Homo sapiens: one gene and its partner. The protein of the gene in region 1 purifies or fractionates together with the protein of each later gene. This does not show direct contact. Each region holds a gene or a part of one and is shown in the gene's direction. Other genes may lie near its edges.

What was found.
Region 2: the proteins of NECAB1 (region 1) and RAI14 purify together in Homo sapiens (affinity purification with mass spectrometry; one large-scale study listed by BioGRID and IntAct). This does not show direct contact.

What each region holds. Positions count from the first base shown.
Region 1 is NC_000008.11:90,917,014-90,920,844, forward strand, and holds part of NECAB1 (N-terminal EF-hand calcium-binding protein 1), read left to right. Parts: intron 1-478; coding exon 479-615; intron 616-3,831.
Region 2 is NC_000005.10:34,830,001-34,833,224, forward strand, and holds the end of RAI14 (ankycorbin), read left to right. Parts: intron 1-687; coding exon 688-765; 3' UTR 766-2,612; downstream 2,613-3,224. UniProt on the Homo sapiens protein: Plays a role in actin regulation at the ectoplasmic specialization, a type of cell junction specific to testis. Important for establishment of sperm polarity and normal spermatid adhesion.

The sequences.
Region 1 (3,831 bases):
CGGATCAAGCATAATAAATACATCAAGAGTGAATTAAGCCAATTGCTGAAACATGGTTGCATTTTGTTGGTAATAGTGAAAATATATGATGGCGTGGTCAACATTCAAATGAGACATAGAACAAACCCTGAGTTAGTCACATTCTGATCTTCCCCCTCCGCCACCGGATATTTATTTTTTCTTTTCTACAGATGTCTATTTTGCAACTCTGCTGGTTTTGTCCTTTTTCTTAATCTTGAGGCAGGTATATTGGGAGGCAAGATATTCCAGTCATTTCTGCAGCTTTTTTATTCATCTCCTGGTGGGTGGATGAGAGTGATGCTGTAGCCTCCAGGGCTCGACAGATCTTTTCCCTTCTCTCCACCCTCTCTCTCTAGGATCAATCTGGGATTGATGGGTACATGGTAAAAGAAAAAAAAAAAATCCTGGGTATTTTTTTCTACCATACTTCTAATTGCATTTGTTTTGTCACCCTTAGGACTACCAAGAAGCCTCCAATTTGGAACAATTCGTAACTAGATTTTTATTGAAGGAAACCCTGAATCAGCTGCAGTCTCTCCAGAATTCCCTGGAATGTGCCATGGAAACTACTGAGGAGCAAACCCGTCAAGAAAGGCAATTTACATGTTTTCATCTGATGTCTATTTAGTGACTCTATGTTCATGAAAAAACAATTGAGAGGCATTGTACTTACACTAGCAAAAACTAAAAAAGAGAATTGATATATTTAAAAAGAATGACAGTGACCTCCACTGGTTGCTTGCCTTATTATTTGCCTCTAAAAAGACCATTCTACTTTTTCTTTTACTGTCAGTCATTTAGTAAACTATATATATATATATATATATATATATATATGTGTGTGTGTGCGTGTATATATATGTCTGTGTGTATATATATACACACACACACATATATGTGTATGTGTGTATATATATACACACACACATATGTGTGTGTGTGTATATATATACATATATGTGTGTGTGTATATATATATATTTCTTTTTTTTTGAGATGGAGTCTCACTTTGTCACCCAGGCTTGAGTGCAGTGGCACGATCTTGGCTCACTGCAAACTCTGCCTCCCGGGTTCAAGCAATTCTTGTGCCTCAGCCTCCCAAATAGGTGGGATTACAGGCACACACCACCACGTCCAGCTAATTTATTGTATTTTTTAGAAGAGACGGGGTTTCACTATGTTGATCAGGCTGGTCTTGAACTCCTAACCTCAGATGATCCACCCATCTTGGCCTCCCAAAGTGCTGGGATTACAGGTGTAAGCCACTGAGCCCAGCTGAGTCAACAAATTTTAATTGAAAATTTAGTAGATGGAGAAGACTTTAAAGTATTATGAATAATATAAAGATACATTTAACATAATGTCAATCCTTAAGGAAGCCTAAGTCTATCATATAAATAAGACATGAACACAAAAACTATACTGCAAAGAACAAAGTGATAATAAATACCGTAGAGAAGAGGAAATACATTGCCAATTGTTTTCAGAATATTAAAAGATTAAATATGGATAGAGGGATGGAAGGATGAGAAAGTCAATTTCATGGAGTTTCTCTATTTGAGCTTGTCTTGCAAAATCAAGAGATCAGTGAAAAAGCCTGGTGGGAAGACAAGACTTGAACTGGACCTGTAGGATGAATTTGAATGGCAGAATGAGAGTCTCTCTAGAGGGATCCGTCTCACCCACCTCCTGTTACCCACCTCTCATGTGGCTCACTTCTCTTTGGTTGTCTGGTCACTGATTGGACAGTAATTTCTCTGGGAAGCCTTCACTGCTCATTCATACCTCCCACTTCACTACCGTGTATTCCTATAGTGCCCCCTATTTATATCTACTTATCTCAACCCCTTCCTTGTTAATTTGGTGTAATTTTGAAAATGTGGAAATGATGGGAAAGACCCTTACAGACTACATGAACCTGGATATACTTGGGAGACCTGATAATTCAGTAAGCCTAATTATTTCAGGAAATGGAGAAAAGTGAATGATGGAAATTATTTCAAAATTCAATGCCACCAATAGGTATCACTGAGAAAATAAGTAGTCATATTGCAATAGCTATATAAATAAAGGCACTAATGCTTAAGAGACACCTATACTAAAAATGTGTAGGGCACACATCAAGGTGATCCCAGCCAACAGTTGATATTTTTCTGAGTTGTCATTGCTTATACTTTGCAAGCTAGAGAAGCTTGCAAAACTCTTGCTCCTGGGGCATATTTTGGCAGATGTGTTACTTTAAACTTATAGATGTGCTTTATCTAACTTTTACATCTTAAATTAGAGAGAAGGAAACAGTAAGTTTTCTGAACAGGCTGATAATAGACTACCCTGCAGGACCAATTTTCCTGAACAAATTAACTGATACATAATTATTAGGACATCTCCAAAATAGTGGAATTTTCAACCATGTGTTTACAATGTCAAAATGAGTGAGCACCACCAACTTCTAACAAAAAATCCTGTAATTCCAGAATCTAATGAGCCCATGCAGCTGACTGTCACAGGGAAGTACTCTTTAGCAGATCTGTGAAGCATCCTCTACATCATAAACTTCCTGTTTTCACTGCGTTGGGTGATTCTATACCAAATGGCAAAGTATAACAATTCACTTTAGAAAAGCAAAACCCACCTCCTCAGCTTTGAGCAGAGGATAACTGAATGTCTTGAAGCACAGTGAAATGGATTTCATGTTCCTAATGAGAAAAATGAGGCCTCCTGTGTTGTTTCTTTTGTTTGGACTTTCTGGAAATAAAATGGGAACTCCCTTTTTAGAATCAGTCATCTGCCACCTGAGAAGAGGCTTGAAAAAGTGCTCTACTCCCCTTCTTCACCTGCGCTTTTGTTTTTTTCTACAGTCATCCCCTGAAAACCTGTGCTCTGCATTTACCACCATGCTGTGAATGTTTAATGAACAACTGTTTTCTGTGTTAGGCCACAGGCTAGCCTTGAACTCTTGTGACTGCTGCCAGCAGCTGCCTAGCAGCTGTGCTTAATGAGAAGGAGCATGACAATATAGACTTTAAGGAAAGTAGAAGGCACTAGAGGATTAACGAACCTTTTACTTCTGGATTTCTCACTCAAAAACAGCTTCAAATAATGGGAAATGTTACATGTCTGACTGCAGTTTAAGGGGTGCTGTTGTATGGCATTTGACTAAGACACCCAGGAATGACAAAATCCCACCCCAAATCTGTGATATTCCCCCTGAGAGGTTTATAAAGAAATGCATAAACAAGCAAACAGAAAATAAGGTACCACTATGGATTTATGCCCGTAATATCTGATGAACCAGACTGAAGCACGTGAATTATGCCCAAACCTAAAGGGACTGTGTCTCCTCTCCCAAGGCTATATCTTCCTATCAGCTGGCCACCAAAAGTGAGGAGAGCCCTGGGACCTTCATCAGTGAGGAAAAGATAGAGAGAGAAAAACTATACCTTTCCTATGATGTCAATCAAGAGACCAGTGAAAACGCCTGATGGGAAGACAAGACTTGAAGTGGAACTTTAGGATGAATTTTAATGGCAGAATGAGATTCTCTCTAGAGGGATCCGTCTCACCCATCTCATGTTACCCATCTCTCATCTGGCTCACTTCTCCTCGTCTGTCTTGTCACTGATTGGACAGTACTTTCTCTGGGAAGCCTTCACTGCTCATTTATACTTCCCACCTCATTACCATGTATTCCCATAGTGCCCTCTATTTATATCTACTTATCTCAGCCCCTTCCTTGTTTATCTCCCCCATTAGACATTGAGTTTTTAGATGGCAGAGACTTTGCATAAGTCCCCTCTACTTACTACAACT
Region 2 (3,224 bases), on another chromosome or scaffold:
TTTAAAGCAGGGCCTCACTCTGTCATGCAGGCTGGAGTGTAATGGCATAATCTCGCCTCACTGCAGCCTCGACCCACGGGCTCAAGTGATCCTCCCACCTTAGCCTCCCAAGTAGGTGGGATTACAGGTACCCACCACCGTACCTGGCAAATTTTTGTATTTTTGTAGAGATGGGGCTTTGCCATGTTGCCCAGGCTGGTCTCAAACTCCTGAGCTCAAGCAATCCACCCGCTTCGGCCTCCCAAAGTGCTGAGATTACACGCATGAGCCACCATGCCCCACCCTCCCATCATTTATTGAGGAATGAGGGATGATGTGGTCCTCCACTGGGAAGACGGGGGCTTTATTTTCCAGCAATGCTGATCTTCTTAGTTACCAGTGCTGCCTTGGCTCTATGATGCTTGGTGTTCTGGCTGCTGGACTCACATTTGCAACTGAGACCCCAGATAGCTTTTGCTGAGGGTTTTGGTAGACACTGCCACCTCATCTTCCAGCTGGATAAAGGCAGGGCCCTTTCTTTGACTCAGTTCCTCATAGAAATTTGGGAAATGATAGGGCTGACATTCCTGTGAAAGATGTGGGAATTAGCCCAGGTCTTCATTGCAGTCAGCCATCTCATTCCCCAGAGAAGAAAGTGCCATGGCTTAATTTAGGTTCTAATGAGTATCTTGTGTTTGAATATCCTAGGGCCAGATGGATGAAGATGTCCAGAAAGTACTGAAGCAAATCCTTACCATGTGTAAAAACCAGTCTCAAAAGAAGTAAAGTGGATTCCTTGGCAGGACACTGCCCCTTGTCATCTGTCTTTGTGTTAGATCCAGAGTTGTCGGCAGCCGCTGCCATTGTTCTCATTCGTGGTATGCACTGTGGCCTAGCGTAGCTTCTTCCCTTTCCAAAGGTTTCTGAGGACTTCTCCCAGGAGAAGACTGCCCGCCTCAGAACTGCTTAGAGACTTCAAACCAGCAGAGGTGAAAGTCCCTGTCATCCCTTCAGATTCCAGAGCTGGGATCAGCCATGCCCAGAGGTCTGGTCCTGATGCTGGCAGGGGGGCCCCCTCCTCCATCCCTGACTGGCTGAGTGGCTTTATCACCACCGAGTGATGTGCTGAGGCCTCCTGCAGTGAATGCTCCTTCCATTCCTGTACTCGGGCAGTGCCATTCAGCACAGGAGAGCTCTTTTTGCCTTTGGCTTTCAATTCCAAAACATGATTTAATTTCTAACTAAATTAGTATGGCACTAGTTATGAAGTATCTGCTTAAAACCCTTCATCATGATATCCTGTGGATTTAAAAACTCTAATTCCATGTTTTCTTCCCATCTGCCTTATATATCTCATCACCCTGCTTATCAATATTCAGTTTGATGAGCACTATTAACTAAAATATGAAACTTAAAAACAAAAGCAAGTTGTCCTTAAAAGTTCTTTTTTTAAGTAAATTGTTGACATACTGCAAATTTTCTATGCAAACTTGCCTCCTGCTGTTATCTGTGAAGCTCAGGAAATCCAAACATTTGTGTTTCAACAAGGGACAGTAAACTGTGTGTTTACAGCCAAAAGAAATGCCTCATAGTTCTTAACCTCAACTTTTGTAGAAGTATTTTTTTCTCTGTAATATTTTTATTGGCTCATAAAGATGTTTTCATATCTGAACTCCTAAATAAGTGAAATTACAGTAGATTATATTAACAAAATACTTTTTAGGTAGCCATGCTTGAGACTTTTTAAAAATATAACTTTTTCCTTAAAGTTTTCAGCTATAGCAAAAGGTAGTTATGTATGCCAGACCTAATATGAGCTGCCACCAACACCCCTAGAACTTTCAGCCATGGTGTCTTCAGAATTGTAGCGCATTTCTGAATCTAGCAAATCCTCCTTTTACCCGTTGAATGTTTTGAATGCCCTGACTCTACCAGCGCCCATAAATGATCTCTAGAAGGACTGTTAGTACCAATCTGTTTTTCAACTTTGAAGCTAAAAACCCTGATATGGTAATATTATGGTGCATAGCAGAGGTCTCGGAAAAAAAATATTTCTGTTCACTTTACTTTCAGGTTAAAAATGTTTCTAACACGCTTGCAACTTCCCTTATGGCATTAATCTTGTTGAGGGAGAGAGACAGAATCCTGGACTCTCCAAAGTATTTAACTGAAAGTAGGGCCTGCTCTGACAGGGCCCATGTCCCACAAGGCTGCTTGGCCTCAGTGGGTGCTTGGCTGTGCTGGATGATATGTTGATCTGTATTGGATAAGGACCAATGACAGCAAAGCAAAAATGGCTTTAAAGCTTGGTGTTACTTTTCTTAAGTTGTTTAATTATAGTTAAGCAATTTCAAAAATGCTCCAAAGAAATGTGAAAGGACCTTTTGTCACAGCACTTCAGAAAATACACAACAGCCCCTTCTGCCCCCGCACAGAAATGCTGCAGAGTATATAAAACTTGAGACATTTTTGTAGGATGCCTGACGAGGTGTAGCCTTTTATCTTGTTTCCGGATGCATATTTATTACGAGTACTCTGGTTAAATATTGAAAAGTTATATGCTGTAGTTTTTAGTATTTTGTCTTTGTAATTTACAGAAGTTATTGGAGAAAATAAACTTGTTTCATTTTGCATTTCTGGTGTTGATTTTTGGTGTATTCAGAAGCATATCTGCGTGGCTTCTGAAGATCAGTTCAATAGCATTTCAGTGTAATAGGTTTTCTAGTCTGTGCTATGCTCAGCTGGTATGAGTTGTCCGCACTGTCTCACACAAAGTCTCACATCATTTCCTTTTCCCAGCTCTTGGATTCGCCCTGAGCTCTGCCCTGAGTATCAGCCGCTTTGGGGCAGTTGAATCACAGTTGCCTTTAATTCACAATTGCCTCTCATTTAATCTGCAGTCTGTTTAACTGTTTGGAAGCCTCCGCTGGATTTTTTTTCCCTCTTGCTTCTTGCTTTTTTTGAAAAAGTAATACATACATATGTAAAAAAAAAATCCAGATACATTTTCCTGCCCCATTACAAAGACAATTCAATTAATTCCTGACAAAACTCTTGTCAGGTGAATTCTGGCAAGGTTAAAATCATAATTAAAATTGTTGCAGGTTATAATCATAATCAAAATTACATGAAATAGGTACAGCTACTTAAGAAGTTAGCATTGTTTATCATACTCCAATGTAACAAGGCCATTTCCCTTCACTTACAACATGATTCCACCTCTACTTCAGTTTCATTGTGCCTTC